3 separate regions of the Homo sapiens genome follow, and regions 1 and 2 are each linked to region 3. Evidence: fine-mapped expression QTL. A gene starts in region 3. Each other region holds a variant in brackets. All regions are shown on one strand. Distances are from middle to middle.

The links.
Region 1: its variant is fine-mapped to the expression of KLHL25 in whole blood (TOPMed, PIP above 0.99).
Region 2: its variant is fine-mapped to the expression of KLHL25 in unexposed skin (GTEx, PIP above 0.99).

What each region holds. Positions count from the first base shown.
Region 1 is chr15:85,762,175-85,770,352 of GRCh38, reverse strand. It overlaps KLHL25 (kelch like family member 25), which reads left to right. Exons shown (of 3, transcript NM_022480.4): 2 at 533-2,336. The coding sequence starts at 543. The coding sequence ends at 2,312. Among named protein-coding and RNA genes, the nearest start is that of MIR1276, 4.3 kb to the left of the region's middle. RefSeq lists enhancers at 1-243, 244-1,018, 1,019-1,792, 1,793-2,567, 5,499-6,231 and 2 more. The variant G/T (reference allele first, on the strand shown) is at 3,564.
Region 2 is chr15:85,825,399-85,833,576 of GRCh38, reverse strand. It overlaps MIR548AP (microRNA 548ap), which reads right to left and starts at 7,942; the gene lies at 7,847-7,942. The variant G/A (reference allele first, on the strand shown) is at 4,746.
Region 3 is chr15:85,790,873-85,799,050 of GRCh38, reverse strand. It overlaps KLHL25 (kelch like family member 25), which reads left to right and starts at 4,126. Exons shown (of 3, transcript NM_022480.4): 1 at 4,126-4,285. RefSeq lists silencers at 3,936-4,005, 4,156-4,455.

The sequences.
Region 1 (8,178 bases), 29 kb after region 3:
AGAGATCAGGCTCCAGAGCCGGACAGCCCATGTGAGAATCCTGGCTGTGGCAGTTTGGGTAGTTTCTTGGCCTCTCTGAGCTGTGGCTTCCCTAGCTCTAAAATGGGACTTACAAGAGAAGCTTCTGTAGAGGACTGTCATGAGAGTGGAATGTGGTCAAAGGCACCAGTTACTTAGCACTGCCCGGACACCAGCCTCAGTCAGGAACACCGTTTGCATGTTCTCTTAACCATGGGAGGCAGCCTCAACTGGAGCTTGCCTAGGGGGTGGCTCATCTGCAGGCCAGAGATGTTTGTCCCAGAGCTGGCTCATACCCTGAGAACAAAACCAGTTTCTGCAGGGCAGGGTGAGACCCAGCCACTCTTGCCTGTGTTGTCCTTGGCAACGTGGTTGCGGGAGAGGGGCTTGGTTTAGCAGAGGTGAGCAGAGAGTGGGTGGGAGGGGACAAGGGGGCTTGTGCTGAAGAGTGAGCCCTGAGAGGGCAGATGGGCAGGAGGGGCTCCTCTAACCTGTGGGCTTGTTCCCCCACAAGCTGACGCACCATGTCGGTCAGTGTCCATGAGACCCGCAAGTCGCGGAGCAGCACGGGGTCCATGAACGTCACCCTCTTCCACAAGGCCTCCCACCCGGACTGTGTGCTGGCCCACCTCAACACGCTTCGCAAGCACTGCATGTTCACCGACGTCACACTCTGGGCGGGCGACCGTGCCTTCCCCTGTCACCGTGCCGTGCTGGCCGCCTCTAGCCGCTATTTTGAGGCCATGTTCAGCCATGGCCTTCGGGAGAGCCGGGATGACACTGTCAACTTCCAGGACAACCTGCACCCGGAGGTGCTGGAGCTGCTGCTGGACTTTGCCTACTCCTCACGCATCGCCATCAACGAGGAGAACGCTGAGTCACTGCTGGAGGCAGGCGACATGCTGCAGTTCCACGATGTGCGGGATGCTGCCGCCGAGTTCCTGGAGAAGAACCTTTTCCCCTCCAACTGCCTGGGCATGATGCTGCTCTCGGACGCCCACCAGTGCCGCCGGCTGTATGAGTTCTCCTGGCGCATGTGCCTGGTGCACTTTGAGACGGTGAGGCAGAGCGAGGACTTCAACAGCCTGTCCAAGGACACACTGCTGGACCTCATCTCGAGTGATGAGCTGGAGACCGAGGACGAGCGGGTGGTCTTCGAGGCCATCCTCCAGTGGGTGAAGCACGACCTGGAGCCACGGAAGGTCCACTTGCCCGAGCTCCTCCGCAGCGTGCGTCTGGCCTTGCTGCCGTCCGACTGCCTGCAGGAGGCCGTCTCCAGCGAGGCCCTCCTCATGGCAGACGAGCGCACCAAGCTTATCATGGATGAGGCCCTGCGCTGCAAGACCAGGATCCTGCAGAATGATGGCGTGGTCACCAGCCCCTGTGCCCGGCCACGCAAGGCGGGCCACACGCTACTCATCCTGGGGGGCCAGACCTTCATGTGTGACAAGATCTACCAGGTGGACCACAAGGCCAAGGAGATCATCCCCAAGGCCGACCTGCCCAGCCCCCGGAAGGAGTTCAGCGCCTCAGCGATCGGCTGCAAGGTCTATGTGACGGGGGGCAGGGGCTCCGAGAACGGGGTCTCCAAGGATGTCTGGGTGTACGACACCGTACATGAGGAATGGTCCAAGGCGGCGCCCATGCTGATTGCCCGCTTTGGCCATGGCTCAGCTGAGCTGGAGAACTGCCTCTATGTGGTGGGGGGACACACATCCCTGGCAGGGGTCTTCCCGGCCTCGCCTTCTGTCTCCCTGAAACAAGTGGAGAAATACGACCCTGGGGCCAACAAGTGGATGATGGTGGCCCCCTTGCGGGATGGCGTCAGCAATGCCGCAGTGGTGAGTGCCAAGCTGAAGCTCTTTGTTTTCGGAGGAACCAGCATCCACCGGGACATGGTGTCCAAGGTCCAGTGCTATGACCCCTCGGAGAACAGGTGGACGATCAAGGCCGAGTGCCCCCAGCCTTGGCGGTACACAGCCGCTGCCGTCCTGGGCAGCCAGATCTTCATCATGGGAGGTGACACGGAATTCACAGCCGCCTCGGCCTACCGCTTTGACTGTGAGACCAACCAGTGGACGCGGATTGGGGACATGACTGCCAAGCGCATGTCCTGCCATGCCCTGGCTTCCGGCAACAAGCTCTATGTGGTCGGGGGCTACTTTGGGACCCAGAGGTGTAAGACTCTGGACTGCTATGACCCCACTTCAGATACATGGAACTGCATCACCACAGTGCCCTACTCACTTATCCCCACGGCCTTTGTCAGCACCTGGAAGCACCTGCCCGCGTGAGGAGCACCTGCTGAGCCCAGCCAGGTGAGTCCCTGGCAGCCCACGGCCACTCTGGGTCCGGAAAGGTCATGGGGGAATGCAGTCCCACCTCTTCCCACTGGGTGAAGGTCACCGTGTCTTCCAGGGAAGTCTGGGTGGGCAGCAGGTGGCTGGTGTGCTCTGGAGTCAAATCCTGGCTCTGCCTTCTATTTGCAGTTAACCTGGAGCAAATTATTGAACCAGTCTGCAAAATGGGGACAGTAACCATGGTTAGACCAACATGGTGGTTCCCAAACATGGTTATACTTCAGAATCACCCAGGGACCTTTTGACAGTGCTGTGTGGAGCATAGGTCAACCTGCAGAGTCTGAGGGTGCAGTCTCCACACAAGCCTGCTCTTACTTTTGACACCAGGTGCAACAAAGGGGGCCTCCCAAACCACCCTCGGTCAATTTTGCCAGAAAGACTTATAGAAGTCGCTGAAGGCTGTTATGCTCACAGTTACAGTTTATTATAGGGGAAAGATACAGATTAAGATAAGCCAAGGGAAGAGACATGTACTAAGGCAGAGTCCAGGAGAATGGCCCCCTCCCCATGGAGTCAGGACAGTGTTACTCTCCTGGCACTGATGAGTGATGATATGTATGAAGATTGCCAACCAGGCCCGGGCATGGTGGCTCATGCCTATAATCCCAGCACTTTAGGAGGGCTGAGGTGGGCAGATGGCTTGAGCCCAATTCAAGACCAGCCTGGGCAATGTGAAAGTCAGTCCTGGCCGGGCACAGTGGCTCATGCCTGTAACCCCAGCACTTTGAGAGGCCGAGGTGGGCAGATCATGAGGTCAGGAGATCGAGACCATCCTGGCTAACAAGTGAAACCCCATCCCTACTAAAAATACAAAAAATGAGCCAGGCATGGTGGTGCACACCTGTAATCCCAGCTACTTGGGAGGCTGAGGTAGGAGGATCACTTGAACCTGGGAGACAGAGGCTGCAGTGAGCCAAGATCATGCCGCTGTACTCCAGCCTGGGCAACAGTGAGACTCCGTCTCAAAAAAAAAAAAAAAATGATCGCCAACCAGGCATGACATCCATGTCTAAATGGTGGAGTCCTCCAAAAAACTGTTAACTGTAAACACCAAAGCCTGCATGGTGGGAACAGACAGCCTTGGTTTGAGTCCTGTTTCTCCTGGGGGCAGCTGTGTGCTCACCAGCATGCAAGGGATGGGGAGAAGTCCTTCCTCGAAGCCGGCAGGCGTCTAGCTTAAGCGAG[G/T]TCATCCTTGAGGGCCTTGGAGCAGGGCTTCCTGCAGAGCGAGTGTCTGTGGGTTGCTGCCACACTGTCATTGTGTGGAATCGCTATGAAAACAGGTGACACGGAAGGCACTCTGTGGGAGGTGATGGTGGGACAGAGACACTGGGAGCAGTTTGAGCCAGGCCCTGCAGACCCTGCAGTGAAGGGAAGGAACGGGCGGGAGGAGTGTCTCATCTGGTGCTGGTTTAATCTCCTGAGAAGCTGAGCTGGGGGCGGGGTCTTCCCGCAGCAAATAGGGGCAGGATCGGCATGAGGTCCTGCCACGAGAGAGGGTATCCCGGCCAGCCTGGCAGGGTACTGGGGTAGATGCCAGAGAAGGGCTTTGTGCCCAACACACCCTCTGTGTTTAGGGCCTGGGAAAGGCCAGGGTGCGTGCCACTAGCCCTTGGCCATTCTCCCGGCTCATGCTGTCCTGGGCCCCTCACCCCTGCAATAGGGGCATAAGATCCCTGGGTGCACTCTGCCTCCAGCACAGGACGAGACTGTGGAAGATGAGCTGTCCTGCCGGAGGGAGCCCAGCCGCTTCCCACGATCCTGCAGCGCTGGGTGGTGGCAGTGATCCCCACGTGTGGGCTCAGCTTCAGGTCATAGGAACCCTTTCAGGAGCTGGCCCGAGCTAAACATTAATTTCCTCAGTGAGCCAGCGGCTGCTGATACAAATGCTGAAAGCTCTACCCAGTGAAGGCAGTCATTCTTAGCTGGGATTGCTTCTCAATGGAAGCTGATGGCTCAGCCTCTAACTCAGATCCAGCCAAGCCTTCGAGTCCCTTAAAGGGACATGGTGGCAGGCAAGGAGGGCCCAAGCATAAGCATCAAGTTGGTGAACACAGGGTGTTTGGGCTCACAGAGGCCAGCCTGAATAGGAACACCAGTTTTCTTTTTTCTTTTATTTTTCTTTTTTCTTTTTCTTTTTTTTTTTTTTGAGACAGTCTCGCTCTGTCACCCAGGCTAGAGTGCAGGGTACGATCTCTGCTCACTGCAACCTCCACCTCCCAGGTTCAAGGAATTCTCGTTCCTCAGCCTCCTGAGTAGCTGGGATTACAGACGTGTGCCACCGCATCTGGCTTGCTTTTTTCTTTTACAGCTTTTCTGTTTTCTTCTTCTTCTTCTTCTTCTTTTTTTTTTTTTTGAGACAGTCTCGTTCTCCCCCAGGCTGGAGTGTAATGGTGCGATCTCTGCTCACTGCAACCTCTGCCTCCTGGGTTCAAGCGATTCTCCTTCCTCAGCCTCCTGAGTAGCTGGGATTACAGGCATCTGCCACCATGCCCAGCTAATTTTTGTATTTGTAGTAGAGATGGGGTTTCACCGTGTTGGCCAGGCTGGTCTCAAACTCCAGACCTCAGGTGATCCACCCGCCTCGGCCTTCCAAAGTGCTGGGATTACAGGTGTGAGCCTTCGTGCCCGGTCTTCTTTTTTTTTAATCTGCTGTCTTTAGAGAAAAATCAGACCTGCCAAATTTCTTGATTCCCTGAGGAGTGAGATTCCAAGAGGATACTGGCATCTCCTCATTAATTCCCTGTTGCTATCCTCTAGGTCATTTAGAAACCTGGGGAATGTCACCTGTGGGAAATGGAGGCCCCTCCCACCCCAGGCCAGCCGGGCTGGGCAGTGTGAGGGGGCCCATGCTGCTGGCCTCAGGCAGCTGAGACCATCTCTGGTCTGAGCCTCCAGACCAGAGGCTGCCCCCTGCCTACCCTCCAGGTCAGAGGCTCCCTCCCACCTGGCCCTGCCCTGTCAACTGGACCTGGTGAACCATGTACTCTCCCAGGAATTGCTCTGATCCCAGGGACCCTGGAAGGAGAGCATGCATGGTGTCTTGGTTGTGACTTTTTGGCTGCTTCACCCTGGACTGGCTACTTGATTCCCCTGAGGCTCAGCTTCCCCATCTGGACAACGGGAGTGGAAATTGTATTACTCATAGCACTAGAATAGAGATCAAGTGATTGCCAGTTTCAGAAGCAGCTTAAAAGGGGTAGCGATGGAGGACAGGGAGATGCTGATGCTGATGGTTTTGGGGTGCTGTGGGCTGCAAGGGCCTCTAGATGTCTCTGCTTAGCCCCTCCCTCTGAAAGGCCTGTCCACCCATGACTGCTGTTCCTCAGCAGGCACTTGCCCTGTGCCCACTGGAGTCCTCCTCAGTCTGTAATGGGATTGCTGTCATCAGCTCCATTTAGGGATGAGGAAGCGGACACACAAGACTGAGCCAGTCCCAGATCTGATGGGGAAGCTACTTCCAGACCCTGTCATCCCAGAGCCATGTCCCCAAGGCGTTCTGGGCTGTGTGCTTCCTTGGCTGCTGCGCTGAGTCCGGGTTGCTCTTAAGCTTCTGCCACTGCCTTGCGTTCCAGCTGCTTCCTTCTCATGGGCCTGGTGGCCATCCAGAGACCCTCCGCGCAGCCCCTCCTCAGCCTGAGGCCACCCCAATCCCGTGGCTTCTGTCCCCTCACTATGACCCTGGGTTGTTCCCATGCTCTGCAAAGCTCCTCCTGTCCAGCTTCTGCCTGGACAGCTCAGTGTCCGAGTTCTCTTCAAAGGCAGGGAGTGAGCTGGGCTCTCCATAGAAGGGCCTGCAGCCCAGAAGCCGCTGCCCGGGCATGCCTGGCCTTCCCTGGGTCACCAGGAAATGGAGCCACAGTGGCTGCAAGCAGAGCTCTCGCTGCTCAGGCGGCCACTGCGGAGCTGTCAGGGCTGAGCCAGAGGAGAGCCCCCAACTCAGGCAGCCGCAGACCGGGGCCAGGAAGGGTGGAAACAAAGCACTCCTGCCACCTCCCCCGCGGTGGGTGCCCCTGGTGACCATGGCACTTCCCACTGAGCTTGGCTGCCTGCAGCCCCAACCAGCGCATCGTCGTCTGCCACCTAGAATGTCGTCTGGCAGTGCCTGGGCCCGAGATGGCTTCTGTGACCACCCCGCTCCCTACGTTTCCCTCCCTGACGCTACTCTCCCAGGCAGCAGTGGGGATCAGGCCAAGGATGCTGGTGAGAAGTCCAGCTCTCGCTAGTCCCCACGAGCATGGCTGAGTCTCCTGCCTCCAGCTGGGCCCAACTGCCCCTGTCCCTGGAGGCCCCTTTCCATCCATCCTGTAAGACTCTGACGTTAGCTTCAGAAGCCACCAGGAGGTCCCCTGCACACTGTGGCCTCTGCACCCCAGATCATGGCCCCTGTTTGTCCACAAGCATTTTTTTTCCCCTGTTCTGGCCACCTGTTGGAGCTCTTCATAGGTGTGAGCGTCTGCATCGAGTTCCCTGTCATTCTCCAGAGCTGTTTGTCGTAGGTCCTGCTGTTGGAGGGCGCCCACTAGGACTCTGAGAGGTGAGACAGTTGGCATCACATGAATGGTGAGTCAGGGCTGGAGCAGGACTTGAGCCCTGAGTGTGCCGCCTGCCTGCAGGCGCCTCTGGGGAGCTGGCCACGGGCATCCTCACGTCTGCGCCCCTGGCACAGAGCACAGGCTTGGCCAGCAGCCGTCCAGAAGCGGCGGGGAATTGCTGAGCTGGAACCTGAGCGACCTCCAGGGCAGCCCCTTGCTCCAGTGTTGCGGTTGGATCCACAGCCTAGGGGATAGCAGCCAGCGGCTGCAGGAGGCCCCCGCTTACCCACTAAGGGTGATCTTGCTGTGAACATTCTCTCCTTCTCTCTCTTTCTCTCCCACTGGGCACCCCGTACTCCAGGCCCTTTAAGGCGCAGACTCCCAACCCTTCTTTCCCACCCGCCTCCAGCATGGGGGGGCTGCCGAATGCAAGGCAGGCATCCGGCTGCCGACAGCTTGTCTTCTCTTCAGGGTGTTGCTGGGGCCTAGCCACTGGGGTGCAGGGCAGGGTTCCAGTCCTGGCTCTGGGAAAGGCCGAGCTCATTAATCCACTGTGGGCTCCGTCACTGCTGCAGGAGGGACAGTACAGTACATTCTCTCCTGTCTTAAAGAAGTTGCTACAGATGGGAAATCCCAGAGCACAGGCCTGAGGATTTCTGCCAGCCTTGAGGGTTGGGCCTGGCTAAGCAAGTGCCCAGGACGGAGTCCGTCCGTCCAGGCATCAGCAGTCATTCGTTCCTGTGCCAGGCTGGGGGATAGAGCAGCATCCCACCCTTGATGGGGCAGGCTGAGCCTAGTGGGGCAGGCCCTACACCAACAACCCACAGGATGCACGTTGGCCAAGACCTGCTGCACACAGGAAGTGCAGGGCGGCCGCTGACCCTTGTCCACTCTGCAAGCTGGAGGATTAGCCCATTTCACAGTTGAGGCCAGGCCCCAGGGAGCACCTGCCAAAAATTAAAGGGACCCAGCCTGAGAGGGAACAAAGGGACCCAGCCTGAGAGGGAACACAGGAGCCTGGCCCCGAGGCTCCCCAACCCCTGTGCCTCTAGCTGTCATCTGTATTCCTTTCAGCAACTCAGGGTGCCTTGGGGGACACCCCCAGGTAGGTAGCGTGGCTGTTTAGTTCCAGGTAGCAGTGAGGCCTTGCCCTGAAGGGACCACATGTCAGCATGTGGCGTGCTGGGATGGGGCCAAGACCGGGCAGCCAGGCCCCAGAGGTTCGGGTTTGCAGTCTTAGAGCATCTCAGGATGGTTAGGGCCCCTGT
Region 2 (8,178 bases), 35 kb before region 3:
GAACAAGGTGCTTTCCTGGAAGAACATCTCCCTTAAAAAGGTCACTCATACCAAAACTTGGGCATTCTTTTTACATTTTATAGAAAAGAAAAAGGATGACGGGCTTGGTGGCTTATGCCTATAATCCCAGTACATTGGGAAGCCGAGGCGGGCGGATCACTTGAGGTCAGGAGTTCGAGACCAGCCTGGCCAACATGGCAAAACCCCGTCTCTACTAAAAATATAAAAATTAGCCTGATATGGTAGTGCGTGCCTGTAATCTCAGCTACTCAGGAGGCTGAGGCAGGAGAATCACTTGAACATGGGAGGTGGAGGTTGCAGTGAACCAAAATCACATCCCTGGAAATCAAAAAAACAAAAAAAGAAAAGGAAAAGGAGGCACCATTCAATTCAGCGTGAATTTATCAAGCATCTCCTCCATGCCAGGAACTCTCTGGACACTAAGGATGCTGTAAGTGACATTCCCTGACCTCATGGAGCCCAAGGAGATTAAATGACCCCTATAACCTAAGGCAGTTTTTCAAATGTCTTCAAGCCTCCTGATGTGTACAAAAGGTAAAAACCCTGGTACCTCTGGTGGAAGAAGCCAGAGCGATCACTGTTTCTCACCCCAGGACTCCGGGAAGTTCTCAAATCACCATGCGGGGTCTCCTGCAAGATCTTGAAAAGTAATAACAGCTAGTGTGTATTAAACACTTCTTAGGGGCCAGGCACTCTTCTAAAAACATTAGCACCTGAACTCTCAGAACAAACCCATCATGTAGGAACTATGATCCCCATTTTACAGATGGAAAGGAGATCACAGAGAAGGAAGTCACTTGCCACAAGGGCTGACTCCAGGGCCCATGACTTGTGTTCTCACCTGGCCTAGCTGCTGCACAGAGCTCCTCACAAGCCGTGAAGAGCAGCGCCAGGAAGCCCCACCGCATCACCTCCATTCTGATGATGATGGTGGTGATGGTGGTGGCAGTGGTGATGAGGTAACTCTTAGTTCCTTTATTTCCTGCAGAGAATGGCTGGTTCCTCTAAATGGCTTGGTGATTGTTTTGTTTGTTGGGTGTTTTTGAGAAAGGGTCTGACTCTGTCACCCAGGCTGTAGTGCAGTGATGAAATCGCAACTCACTGCAGCCTTGATCTCCCAGGCTCCAGCAATCCTCCCACCTAAGCCTCCCAAGCAGCTAGGACAACAGGTGTGTGCCACCACACCCAGCTAATTTTTCTATTTTTTGTAGAGACACAGTTTCACTATGTTACCCAGGCTGGTGTCGAAATCCTGAGCTCACATAATCCTCCCGCCTCCCAAAGTGCTGGGATTACAGGCGTGAGACACCACGCCCAGCCTAATTTTTCTTAATGTACATTTTCATTTTACCAGTGCTATTGTAAGTGCTTTTTGCTGTAACACATTTCTAATACATTTTAAGCAAATGCGGCATTAATTTTGAAGGAATGATCCTTTCTTGTGAAGACCCTTATTCAGCCATTCCCAGGAGGGAGGAGGGACAAAGAGAGACTGAGAGACAGAGAGTGCAGGCGTTCGCAGACAGGAGACAGAATAAGAGAACATTTGCTAAAGAAATGACCCAGGCACTCAGTAAATGTTAGAAGACACGCGAGGGGCTTTTCCAGCGGTCAGTCCTGGCTGTGAATCTCAGTCCCACCCTGTGCCAGATGACATGTCGGACCAACTACATAAATCCTCCGAGCCTTGGTTACCTTGTCTGCAAAGCAAAAGATCTCATTGGGGTTTTCTCCCACATTAAAGGAAACAACCCCACTTTGCACAAAACCTGGAACAGAATAGGAATGCAGTGTGTGCCTTATTCAACCCCTTCTGGACCCTGAGTACAAGACTGAGAATGTCAGCAGAGGGCGCTGGCTGGTCTGGGTCCCTCAATCTGGGAAGCGTGCAGTGTGGATTCAGCGTGGATCCTCTGTCTTGTGGGTGGAGGGCTGAGGACTTTAAACCATGGTCAGATTCCCCCGCCTGTGGGCACTGTGCTGGGGACGGAAAACAGAGCTCTCTGAAGGTGCAATTACACGTCATTTGCATATCTTATAGAGAACAGATGCTCCTTTCCATCGGGAAACATTCCCATATGGTCTGGCCTTGTCGCAATTTCCAACAAGGGCTGGTTTTAAGTTTTGCAATTAAAGGTGTCCCTTGGCCACAGCCAGAAAACAAACTGAGTTTTCATTGAGCCCTGGAGGTGCCTTTGTTTTGCCTCTGACAAGAAGGAAGCCAGCCCTCTGGGCCCCAGGGCCCTGCCAGCTCTCCCTGAGGTCCCCAATTGAGGGAAGGGTTGGGGCCTTCCCTTTAAGGGTGGCTGGCAGTCCCAAAAAAAAGGCTGCGCTAGGGGGATTGGGAAGGGAATGGGAGGGAGATGAGATTAGAGGACAGGGCTAGGGCTGTCAGAATGAACTTCAGGAGACTTTTCCTCCAGCATCTCACATCCTCACTTTTCTCTACCCTAACCCTCTAGACCCCCATCTTCCATCTTTCCTCCTCTCTACCCTCAGGACACATACAGCCCCCAGGTCATAAACCCTCTTCAGATGAAACACACAGGTGGCATCATCGCTCTGCCAGCTGGCCAGGTCCTCCCTTGTGCGGCATCCTCAGGCCCCCCAGCAGCCCTGCATGATAAGGGGCTCTAGGCAGCCTCCACCCTCGGGTCCAGCCTTCTCCACTTGCCTGGCCCAGCTCTTGCCCCTCCAAGGCCTTCAGCTTGCTGTTCCTTTCCTATTCCATCCTTGCCTCACTACTACTTGAATCTGATCCATGCTTTTATCTCCCTGATCAAGTCTGATTTCCTCTCGGCCAGGACTCCCCCTGGCCCTCCCAGTAATGCATCCACAAGTAACAGCAGCAACCCTTGGCCCCATTCCCCTCAGCCCCTGGTGCTTTCCTGCCTCCTAGAAACTGTTCCCACAAACTGCCATCCTAGCCAGCTCTACCTCCCTGGAGAGAGCTGATCCTTGGGCATCCCATACATATGATTTTCCACCGGTGGCCATAGGAGGATGCACGTTCACCTCCTGTCCTGCTGCTCTGTCCTCTCTGGGCAACTTCTATGTCCCCAAGCTATCTCTTGTTTCAGAGAGTCCCCTCCCAAGTAGCATTCCAGGTCTCCCCTGAACTACTGTCCTCCATCATGTGTTTATCTCCAGTGTCCCAATCCATCAGGACCTCGCATGGGCTCTGAATCCATTAACTGGCTGTGTGACCTGGAAACCAACTTATCCTCTCTGAACCGCAGGTTCCTTAAATGTAACTTGGGAGTGCTAATGTCCAATCCTTTTTTTTTTTTTTTTGAGATAGAGTCTCACTGTCACCCAGGCTGGAGTGCAATGGCGCAATCTCGGCTCACTGCAACCTCCACCTCCTGGGTTTAAGTGATTCTACTGTGTCAGCCTCCTGAGTAGCTGGGATTACAGATGCACCACCGCGCCCAGCTAATTTTTATATTTTTAGTAGAGTCAGGGTTTCACCATGTTGGTCAGGCTGGTCTCAAACTCCTGACCTCAAGTGATCCGCCTGCCTCAGCCTCCCAAAGTGCTGGGATTACAGGCATCAGCCACCACTCCCAACCATGCCCACATCATTTGCTGCTGTGATGATGTCATGAGATGACAAACAGAAACATCTCCTTCCTCCTTCCTCAGTGGTGGTAACTCTCCAGGGTGGGGTGAGAGGACTAGGACAGACTCCCCACCGTCCCCACAAGTGACTGCCTCTGCCTCAGGCCAGATGACCCTGACTCAACCCTGCAAGTTGCAGGAAAGCTGAGCCTAGTCTCTCTCTCCAAGAACCTGGTCCCAAAGAGAAATAGTTCCTGCTGCCAGGGTTCCATGGCTTTCCACAGGTGACCTGTAAGGTCAACTATCTTGAGCCGATAGTATGAGCCGCCATACTATATGGTGGCTCATTTAGAGCCTGTAGCAGCTGGATGGAGACTGCCCACAAAGAACAGGTCAATTTGGTCCATCTTTGCCTTTAGTAGTTGCTTAACAGATGATTTTTGTGGACTTAAACCAACCACCCTGATCGGAACCACACCTTTGTTCCCTTTTCCTAGATGAAAAAAAATGGGATTCTTTGCTATGGCACCTACATGGAGGCCACCTGAGGGGCTCTGGCCAGGAATCCAGGTGTTGAGTCCTTCAGAGTTGTTACCTGGGAGCCACAACCATGAAGCATGTCTGTCCTTTTACAGGTCTCTTAAAACCACCTTCCAAACAGCCACTTCCAAAGTCATACAGCCATTAGGAGAGCTGACTGCACTGATTTTTACCCTTTGTGCTACTGATGTCAGAGGCACAGTAAGCAGATTAGAACAGGGGCGAGATGCTACCTTCTGGCACTTCCTGCCAAAATTTGCCTACAGCACATGGATGGCTGTTTAGAGGTAAGCTAAAAAATCTGGTGGAAAGTGCCTGGAGTCATTTGGGATTTTGAAAACATAAGTCGGCCATGTGTCACTGACACTGCTGGTTGCCTACTTAACATGCGTTTCTCACCCACCCTCCTTTCCTCTTTCGATTCAGAACAGCATCTGCCCTCCTGTGCTCAGCTTTGTGTTTCACAAGGGGTTGATCACAGCCCCAGCCCAAGGGCTGAATCCTCATAGGTCCAAGCCAATCATGGGTTCCCAAACCCTTTGTTGGTAATTGGTTTAGATAAGGGTATGTGACATTGTGACATAGATTTCTTTTTTCTTTTTTTTTTTTTTTTTTTTTGAGAC[G/A]GAGTCTTGCTCTGTCGCCCAGGCTGGAGTGCAGTGGCACAATCTTGGCTCACTGCAACCTCTGCCTCCCAGGTTCAAGCAATTCTCCTGCCTCAGCCTCCCGAGTAGCTGAGATTACAGGTGCCCATCACCACACCCGCCTAATTTTTGTATTTTTAGTAGAGATGGGGTTTCACCATATCGATCAGGCTAGTCTTGAACTCCTGACCTCGTGATCCGCCCGCCTCGGCCTCCCAAAGTGCTGGCATTACAGGCATGAGCCACTGCACCCGGCCTAATTTTCTGTCATTATAAGCCACCCAGTTTGTGGTAATTTGTTACAGCAGCCCCAGGAAACAAAAATACCCTCTGTCTCCAGCCTCTACCCTCTTTGTTGTGTTGGCTTCTCTTTTTCTTCTGGCTATGGACCAACCCCTGTACTCCCTAAACCACAAAGCTGCCAACAGCTTGCATATTTGACACCTGTCAATCAAGCTTCCAGAAAGAAAAACAGTACCCTCTGTTTTCCAAATCCAGTTCTCCATGAAATAACTTTGATTGGCCTAGCTTGACTTGCAAGCTAAATTTGGTCCAATCAACTGTGCCCAGTGGCAGACTGGCATTGAACCAAGATGGCAACTCCTAAAGTAGCCATATGGATGGGAACAGAAGATACAGGGAAATTTCTAGAGTAACAAGTGTCCGCTCCAGTTATCTTTAAATAGTTACTCCATAAACACTGGCTTCCCTGGACCATGTTAATCTTTTATATTTTCAGGTATATCTATCGATAAACAGTGAGGCAAAGATAAAGAAAAAATATGGATCTTAAAAAGCCAGATATCTCAGCTGATCAGTGAAAGTCTTTGAAAAGGATGTAATGGACACCAGTACTCTTAGAAGTAATAATGGCATAATTTATAAAGTAAATAATTTGATTGTCCCTACTCCAGCTGTCTGCGTGGAAAAGTGAATTGAGGGAATCCAGCCCCGTGCAAAAGGGCTAACAGGAGCAGCCAAATAGGGCCAGGTGCGGCAGCTTACGCCTGTAATCCCAGCACTTTGGGAGGCTGAGATGGGCAAATTACTTGAGGTCAGGAGTTCTAGACCAGCCTAGCCAACATGGTGAAAACCCATCTCTACTAAAAATACAAAAATTAGCTGGGCATGGTGGTGGGTGCCTGTAATCCCAGCTACTCGGGAGGCTGAGGCAGGAGAATCTCTCAAACCCAGGAGGCAGAGGGTGCAGTGAGCCGAGATTGCACCACTGCACTCCAGCCTGGGTATCAAAATGAGACTCTGTCTCAAAAAAAAAAAAAAAAAAAAAAAACACTCTGATAAAGAGCTGAATAGATACAAATAAATAACCCAAATATACTCTTGTTTGTCTTAGAGACAGTAAGCTAAATCTGATCAGAAATGACTGAAGCAAGTCCAGAGATGCCGACAGATTAGTACTTCTACACAGGCAGTTCTTGTGTGCTGAGGGATGAGATACTTGCAGCAACTTTGTGGCCATTCTCTTAGACCACTGAGTAATAGGCTGTGCTGATAACGACTCATAAAACCTTCAGACACAAATTTTGTAATTGCACCATTATTACAAATTGTATTGTCTGACATTCCAGGTTTCTTGTAAATAACTGATGTAAAGCCTCAATCATTAAAGGGGAGGTTTGAGATAGGATCAAAACTATCTTAGTTCTTTTTGAAAACGTCTCTTGCAGTCAAATTATTCCCCAGGAACGTTTCTGTACTATCAGCATGTTTTAAAAAAAAATCTAGATCACTTCTTTTTTTGAGAAAGGGTCTTGCTCTGTCATCCAGGCTGGAATGCAGTAGCGCAAACATGACTCACTGCAGCTTTGACCTCCCTGGGCTCAGGTGATCCCCCCACTTCAGCCTCTTGAGTAGCTGGGACTACAAGTACACACCACCTCGCCCGGCTAATTTTTCTATTTTTTGTAGAGATGGAGTTTTGCCTTGTCCTGAGCTCAAGGAATCAACCACCTCATCCTCCCAAAGTGCTGGGATTACAGGTGTGAGCCACTGCACCTGGCCATAAGTTCCCTCAGGGGTTTTTCTCAAGTTGCCTACAATAATCATAAATACAGCCTTTTCAGTGGCAGACTTATTCTATGGTCCATGATGGTTTACTGAAAACATAGGTTCCTTCCTGTCAATAACTTTCCATTATACTGTTATAATATAGCCAAGATAATATGGTAAAAATATGTTGACATGATAAATTTTTCCAATAAAATGCATCCTTTGCATGCAGACAATTCATACTTATTAGTAAATAAATTTCACTCTTTGGGCAGTTTCTGTCTAGGTCACCCCTTCAATACCAAGTTTAAGGCACAAGCTGATCTAGCATCACACAGGCAATAAACAAAAAACTATATTGTATCTTCTCTTCAACAGAGAATGAGGTAAGGCTCCCAGGATCCGCATGTCCTGTAAAGCTGACAAGGAGCATGTAGTGTGAGGGCACTTAGTGGGCAGTAGTCATTGAGCTCTTCAAGGATTCCCCAAGAGAACACAGGAGTTGGGTTGGAAGGGAAGACTCCCACAATTCCTAAAACAGTGCTGTAGTTCAAGGATAGTTTTATTCTTAGAAGAGTCCCTAGAAAGTCAAATGATAGCTTGTCGGAAGGATTTAAGGAACTAATAATCCACATGAAGTGCTTAGCACAGCACCCGATGTGTGATAAGCATTCAGTATATGTTAGCTAGTCTTGTGATTTGAAGTGGCGGTAGGATTTCTTAACATCCATGATAACTGTTGGGGCTTCCATCTTGGTATCTGTGCAGCTGCATTCTGTGAGTGACAGTGTTCTTGGGTGGAAGCAGCTGGTACCTAATGGCCATCTGGCACTCTGTGGCCAAGCACAACTCCAGCCCTATAGGGTGGAGCGATTACATCAATAAATAGTGGCTGCATTCACAAAATCCATGGGCCCTGTCTGGGAAGCCAAAAACCTGCTTGACAGCCTGTGCTCTTGTTACAGTAGGTAGCTAGCCAGCCATGAGCAGGGCAGGAGAGGAACCCTCCCAACCACCAGGAATGTCAGGCAACCATCAGGTGATGGTAAAGCATTTGTTACACTGTCTCCCTAAATTAATCTTTAGGTCAGTAAAAAGTAATTGTGGTTTTTGTTATTGGTTTTAATGACAAAGACCGCAATTACTTTTGCACCAACCTAGGAATTGGTCACAGCTGGTGCCAGGGAAAGGCAGTCTCCTAGTAGAGAGAAACACCTGAAACTAGCAATCAGCAGCTTCCCAGTGAGATCTCTAGAGTTGGGTGAGTGGGCTCAAGTATGTACACTAAGGGGCAAAATGACGGAGTTTAACCAGTATATGACCTTCCTCCAGGAACACTGGTAAGGGGAGAATGCCTCAAGTGAGCATGCACACAACTCCAGTTAAATACACTGCACATGTGGCC
Region 3 (8,178 bases):
TGAGGTGGGAGCTACTGGTGGATTTCGAGGGGTAGACAGACATAACGAAATTATCTTATAAAAAGATCCCTCTGGCTGCTGTGTTGAGAACAGATTCTATGGGAGCAGTGTGGAAGAGGGAGATGGCCTGGAGGCTGCCATAATGTCACAGAGGAGAGAAAATGACAGTGTCTCTAGACCAGCCTGGGGGTGGCAGTGGAAGTAGTAAGTACTCAGACTCAACAGGGATTTCCTGATGGATTGGACATGGGGTAGGAGAGAATGATGCCAAGTTTTATCTTACAAAAGGAAAGACTGCGTTGTCCTTTCCTGAGATGGGGAAGCCCACAGGGAGAGCAGCCATAGGAGCTCAGCGGAGACAGTTTGAGGGTAAGGTGCCCTAGACATGCACATGGAGATACCCAGTAAGCAGCTGCACCCATGGGCTTGGAGCTTATGGAGAAGGCGGGGTGGGAGCACAGAGTTGGCAGTTGCCAGTGCTTATATGAACGTAAGGCATGGGCTTGGATGAAATCACTTAGAAGGTGTAGGTAGGGAAGGGAATAGGTCTTCTTATCTCCCTATGCTCCCTACGCTCGCTTCCCGGGCGCTCCAATATTTGTAGGTCTGAGAAGTGAGGGGGAATCAGCAGAGGAGACTAAAAAGAACACCTGAGAAGGTAGAAAGGAAACCAAGAGGCCAGGCGCGGTGGCTCACGCCTGCAATCCCAGCACTTTGGGAGGCCAAGGTGGGCAGATCACCTGAAGTCGGGAGTTTGAGACCAGCCTGACCAACATGGAGAAACCCCGTCTCTACTAAAAATACAGAATTAGCCAGGCGTGATGGTGCATGCCTGGTGATCGCAGCTACTCGGGAGGCTGAGGCAGGAGAATCGCTTGAACTCGGGAGGCAGAGGTTGTGGTGAGCTGAGATTGCGCCATTGCACTCCAGCCCGGGCAACAAGAGTGAAACCCCATCTTTAAAAAAAAAAAAGAACCAAGAATTTGATCATCTATTAACGAACATATATTGAATTCTATACATCATCCCAGAATTTCTGAGACTTCAGATTCTGGGCCACCAGGAATACTAGCTAGATGGCAATGCTGGGAGGAAGGTATTGGTAAGGATTGTTGGTGGACAACAGGCATCTATTCCCTCTTCCTTGTTAACAGAACCCTGACTTTGAGGAGGTGATGTACTAACATAAAAGTCTACATTTCCCAGCTGCTCTTGCAGGTAGGAAAACTAAATTCTGTCCATAAACAAAAGTGTTGTGTGGGACTTCTGCAGTCTGCATAAATAGAGCTAACCAGGCTGGAAGACACACATCTCATGCTCTTCCGCCATTATTCCTTCCTACTGTCTGGGATATAGGTGTCAGAGTTGGAGCCCTAGCAGCCATCTTGGACTATGGGGCAACCTTGCAAATGGGAACCAAGCATTACAGATGAAGGAATAAAAATACAGTAGCCCGTGTTTCTGACAACTGTGGAGTTGCCAACAAAGGATAGCTTAACTTTAGCTTTATTTTGCATAAGCAAGAAACTTCTATCTTGTTTCAGTCACAGTTAATTTTGGGTTTTCTGTCATATGCAGTAAAAACTAATTCTAACGGATATGAGATTTATTCACAGTATTTCAAAACTGTGTAGACAACTTTGATGCAGCCCTAAGAGTTCTGAGATGAATTCATGGTCCCTGCCCTCCCAGAGCTCCCTGCACAGCAGGTGGACTAGCTAAGCAGGCCATTACAACACTGGCTGGTAAGGGCTGCGTTGACGGTAATGCTCCAGGGTCCGCAATAGATGGCAAGGCAAACTTCCGCTCTTCCTCTCATCTTCTTTCAAATCGTACCTAAATTCGATTAACTCCACACGTGTTCTTAGTCTGATTTTGTCCCATTGCTTACACTGTATTTGATTTTAATATATTCTAGTACCTAATTTAAGCCTTGGAGTTGAAGAGAGAAAAAATTATAATGTGGACCAGATTTTACTGGGCGGTTGGCACTTATAATTTTACAGCGAACCTGCATAAAATAATAAGCAACAGTTATAAACTTGCCAAGAATCAATTTTGCATGTGGAGCTTCATTCAACCAACAATTCTATAAACACTCTAGTGCTAGAAAATCGGCAGGATAAAACTACAAATGTGATCTCTGTCATTTCCTTAATGAAGTAATTACTTTGATGCTAATGTGTTGGAGCTGGTTCCTTCCGGTGGGTTGGTGGTCTCGCTGACTTCAGGAATGAAGCTGCGGACCTTCACGGTGAGTGTTACAGCTCTTAGAGGTGGCGTGAACCCAAAGAGTGAGCAGCAGAAAAATTTACCGTGGAGAGCGAAAGAACAAAGCCCCCACAGCGCCAAAGGGGACCCAAGTGGGTTGCTGCTCCTGGCTGGGGGGCGGCCAGCTTTTATTAGCTTATTTGTCCAGGCCCATGTGCTGCTGATTGGTCCATTTTACAGAGTGCTGATTGGTCCGTTTTACAAACCTCTAGCTAGCCACAGAGTGCTGATTGGTGCATTTCTACAGAGCACTAATTGGTACATTTTACAAACCTCTAGCTAGATACAGAGCGCTGATTGGTGCATTTTACAATCCTCTTGTAAGACAGAAAAGTTCTCCAAGTCCCCACTGGACCCAGAAAGTCCAGCTGGCTTCACCTCTCACTACCTTTTCTCTTCAGAAGGCACCTTAACAGTGCACTTGGCAAGCTTCTTACCTCTGGCCAATATTGTTCATAAATATCAGAACCCTGGTGCCTTAGATGTCTGCAGATCTGGGCCAAATGGAAGCACAAATCTGTACTGAGCACTTACTACATGCCAGGCCTATTCCATATGTTATCTTAATCTTTCCCATACCCCTGCAAGAAAGGTTTTAGAATCCTCTTCACCAGTAAGAACCAGACACCAGAGAGTCTGAGCCATCTGCTTCAGTCCTACCCAGCTCTTGAGGGGCAGGGCGGGGCTTCAAACCCAGAACATCAAGCTGTTTCCCAAAAATGCCTTCCCTGGTGGTATCTTCTCATCATCTCCCAGTCTTTTAACCCTGGCATATCTGTCCTGTCTAAGCAGCTTTCTACCCAGGGGCTCTATTTCCCAGGTTCCACTAGTCACAATCCTATCCCCTCTCCCAAATCTTTGTACACTTTCTTAGACCTTCCTTGCACCTCCCACCTCCACCTCCGTCAGGGTGACCTCTGCTTCCTGGGAATTTCCCCGCCCCAGGCTTGGCTCTTTCGTTCTTATCACTTTCTATGCTTTACCTTTTGTATCCTTAAGCAACCTACTTGAATTATCGATTTTCATTGGGAGGGAGAAAAGAGAGGACATTTATTGCGCACTCATTTGTCTGGGAATTTGTCTCCTTTAATCCCCCAAATAATCCGATGAGGAGTTTTTATCTGCCGCTTTACGGATGAGATTGGACACACACAGTAAGCTGAAGTAGTAGTCAGGAGGGAAAAGGACGAAGAATCACAAACCGTTCTCCCCCTCCAAGATGAGTGCATGGTGTGGGCGTCCAGGAAACGTTCCTGGAAGAAATTATTGGATGGATGGATGAATGAATGAATGAACGAACATTTAAAGGCTGGCTTACGAAAGGAGTTTAGTGAGAAATGACACAGAGAGGAGAGCTGAAATACTCCAAAAAATACAGATTTCAAGTACAGGTGGGGTTTGGAGGCTGCAGAAAGTCCCAAACATTCAAACAAGCCCAGAGTGAAAGACAGGGTTTCATTAACACTCGGGCAACTACTAGTGTGGCTCTGAAGAGTCTAAAGAGATCTACAACACTTGTGACCCGAACACAAAAGAGGCATATGCAATCTACAGTGCTCCCTCTGGAAAGCTCTAGAACACCGTCGCGTTTTGTTCCCAAACTTGGGCGGCGGGGTTGGGCAGGCGCCTGTCTCTTTAAGAATCTGGTCGAAGTCCTTTTCCTCGCCCCGCCCCGCCCCCGGTCCCCCCCCCTCCCCGCCCCCGGCCCCCCACCCCCCGGTGCCGGCGCGGCCTGGGGCCCACCCCCTTCTTTTCTGCGGCTGCACTGAAGGGTTCGGCTGCCCATCCGTCACAGAGGCGATGCCTCTGATTGGCTGCTGCTCTTCGGGCCGGGAGGCGGGGCGGGAAGGCCGGAGAAACTAGTTTGTTGGCGGCGCCTAGGCTGTATCGCAGCGAGAGCGTTTTTGCCTGTGGAGAGCCGGCCGACGGGAGCCGCGGCGGAGCCTGTTGAGCTCGCGCGGGCTGCCGGGAGTGGTCTCTGAGGCGGCGGCGGCGGCGGGGATCGTCTCCGGCAGTGAGTATCCAGGCCGGGCGGGGACGCCGTGCTCTGGCCGCAGCACCCGCGCCCCCGCTCCCTGCGCTGGGGACTCACCACCCCGGGCCGGGCCGGGACCAAGCGCTCGGAGCCCCCGCGGGACTACGTGTCCCGGGAGGGGGCCCCGCGGCTGGGGCCGGGGCCCTGGGACAATGGTGGGGAGCGGCGGCCGGCCGGCACCCCGCGGCTCCGCGAGGGAATTCGCCGAGAGCTCTGCGCGAGGGAATGAATTGTTTGGCAAATGGATGTTGCGCGCGGGAGCCGCTACTCTTTCCCCAGGGAGTGGTTGATTCATTGAGTCCGCAGACTCTTTTTTTTAAAAAATTACTATTGATCCTGGAAAGAGAGACTGCTTGTCTTTGAGGACGCGAGCGGCGATGCCCCGCGCCTTGGACGCCCAGGCCGGATGGCTGCCTGCCTGGCGCAGAGCGAGGGCCCGGGGTTCACAAGGGGAGGGTTTGCGCGGGCCTGGCCGCGGAGCCCCGAGCCGTTCACGTTCCGCCTGCCAGGGTCCCTCGTTTCGGTTTGCAGAACTGTCCAGCGGCAGAGAAAGGTCGCACTCAAAGGCACACCCACCTGTCCACCTGGGTGGCGGCCAGACTGGCAGGTCCAGAGCAAGCCCTCTAGCCTGACTCTAATTACCACACTTGCCCTGGCTCCGAGACACACCGCGCGATGTTACGCCCCCACTCCCCCTGTCTCTTTCGTAGTTGCTTTAGAAGCTTTTCTCTTGGGGGATTGTGCCCGGGAGATACCAGATACTTTTTTTGTGTTGCTGCTCTAAGCCCCCAAAGTGCATTCCCATTGTCTTTGAACAAAGAAACATCTCTCTAGAGGCCTGACCCAACGAACTGTGGGTGAGGGGGCGGACCCAGGCCCCTGCAGATTTAATCTGGACGCTCTTGGGTCCTGCTGGATCCCGGTGAATTTGACCTTGGGGAAGGCGGGCTGGACTTTGACTCTCCTCGGTAGTCAGGGCAGAGAATGCCAGGTGTCTGGACCATTTGGTTCCACTCTATCGGCCCAATAGAGAGAGGAAGGGAAGGAAGTTAGCAGTAGCACCAGGAGAGGAGGCAGGATTCCACGGTCTGTATCCTGGACCAGATTCCAGTGACCGTTATGGGGCCAAGCCCTCTGGGACCCTGGGTCCCAGTCTCCCCATTCATAGGAGGAACTGATGCTCAGTGTGCTGATCTGAGCTGTGAGGATTCCTGGCATGTTGGTGAAGGCTTGCGTGGGGGTCTGGGGAAGAGTAGGACACAAAGTCTACCCCACCTCAGGGTCCATTTGGTGTCCCAAGACCGGAGGCTCTTGGGTCCACAAGCTGTGCCTGTGAAGGTTGACGTAGTCAGTCTTTTTCCGGCCTGGCAGCTATTTCAGTTTTGAGTCATTTGTCAGGCAGTGACTCCAGGGTGGTTGATAAAAGGGAGGTAGAAATGGAAGACACCTTCATCCTGGGGTCTTGGGCTGCAGTTGGATTTATGTATGTGGTGCGGAGAGAAGAGCTATAGGCAAATTGCATGCTCCACATCGGAAGCAGGTTCTGCAGCCCGATGCCCCTTAATAGCGTTTTAAATCTGCGGGCACCCCGTGTGGGCAGAAGAGAGCAGGAAGAAAAGAGAACAATTACCCAGTGAAAGCAAGCTTGGTTCGTCCCGTCTATCACTTGGGCGGGGGCGGGGGGAAGGGTAGGATGAGTGAGAGTGTTATTTAGTGGGTGGTTTGTGACTGATTGATTGATTGATTCATTGTTTGAACAGACTTGATTGGGCACCTGCTGTGTGCCAGGCCCTGAGTTAGGTGCTGGAGACTCTTCCTTTAGTGAGCACCTAGATGAGGGAGTGCTGGCACATGGATTAGGGGCCCTGACACATCGTAGTGATAGAGGCAGCAAGAGGAGAGAAGGAGACACAGGTGGGCAAGGCTTCCTGGGGAGAGGATGCCTTGACTAAGATGAGAAAGGCATGTCATCGCCCAGATTCGAGGTGTAGGGCAGCCACCTTTGTCCTGTCGCTCACCCACACTTCTCCCAGAGGCCCAATTCATTGCCAGCCTCAAGATAGGCACAGGTTGAGGCCATGGAGAATGCAAGTGGGAGGTGGTAGAAGGTTTGCTCTCGTCCGTAGTGTCTGGCCGCACAGTCAGCAGTCCAGCGCATTTGTAGGAAGCTGGATGGCTTCTGGATGCAGCCTCTCTTCTCTGGGGGTCCTGGGAGAACCTACCCCCTGGTCCCAAAGACCAGCCCATTGTCTGAGCCCCTAGTCCCTCTGTACCACCAGGCAGTGTAGGCATAGCCTGGCCAGTGTGGGCAGAGCTGGCACAAGAAAACAGAGTGGCCAGACACAAATGAATTGGTTGATTGAGATGCTGGTTTTCATCTAATGTGGTAAATTTCATAATTTAATTGCCTCAGCCAGCCAAGGCTGTTGAAGCATTTTCCTCACCAGGAAACACTTAGTTGGAACAAGCTGGGGGTAGAGGAGGGAGGTGCAGGGGAGGAGGGAGGAGGGAGAACTTAAGCATCCACAGCTTTCAGTCACAGCATCCCAACAGGACTTATCAATCAGCAGCTATCCCCAGCTGATGGAAGTCAGCCCAGCCCCTACAGTAGGTTCCAACCCCTTTCCTTGACCACCTCATTGCCATACCAACCTAAAGCTGTCAAAAGCTGACACCTGTCATCTTCAAGGCATAATCATCCCATACTGCCTCCAGGTCCTTCTGGGGCTGTTAGAAACTGGGGAAGGGGTGCTGTGGGATTAGGTGGGGAAGCGAAGGGGTTTGGGGATAGGAAGGGCTCCCTGTTAAGTCCTTTTAACCCAGGAGCAGTGGAAAGAGCATGGGCTTTGGCACCAGACTGGGGTTCAAATGCTGTGGGTCTGTGATCAAGTTCCTTAACCTCATTGAGCTTTGTTAGCTTTTTTCAGGGGTATGGTGAAGGTTAACCACCATACTATGCAGAATCCCCTAGAATGGGGTCTGGCACCAAGTGGGTGTCAGTCATGCCGGGCTCCCCTTTCCCTTTTTTGTTTTTGTTCCCTGGGTGCAGAATTGAGGTTGGGTGCTTGTTGCTCTGCAGCTGACTTGCAGCCCTCCCCTGAGTCCCCAGTCACCTCACCCCCGCCCCCTACCTCTCTTGCCACTCTTTCTTACTGCTAAACCTTTCCTGCTTTCCTTCCAAGCCCTGTCCCAGCACCCTGTTGGATGATAAACGATAGATGTGTGTGGCTTATTAACCTTTTTTTCTTTTGAGAAGGAGTCTCGCTCTGTCGCCCAGGCTGGAGTGCAATGGCGCCATCTTGGTTCACTGCAACTTCTGCCTCCTGGATTCAAGTGATTCTCCCGCCTCAGCCTCCTGAGTAGCTGGGATTACAGGCACACACCACCATGCCTGGCTAATTTTTGTATTTTTGTAGAGACGGGGTTTCTCCATGTTGTCCAGGCTGGTCTTGAACTCCTGATCTCAGGTGATCCACCCGCCTCAGCCTCCTAAAGTGCTGGGATTACAGGCATGAGCCACTGTGCCTGGCATTTTTCTTTTTTTTTTTTTGAGACTGAGTCTTACCTTGTAGCCCAGGCTGGAGTGCAGTGGTGTGATCTCAGCTCACTGCAATCTCCACCTCTCAAGTCAACCAGTTGTCTGCCTCAGCTTCCCCAGTAGCTGGGATTACAGGCACCCGCCACCATGCTCGGCTTTTTGTATTTTTAGTAGAGACAGGGTTTCACCATGTTGGCCAGGCTGGTCTTGAACTCCTGACCTCGTGATCCACCTGCCTTGGCATCCCAAAGTGCTGGGATTACAGGTGTGAGCCACCGCACCTGGCCTTTTTTTTTTTTTTTTAAATGGCAGCTCTGTGGTCTCAGAAATCAAT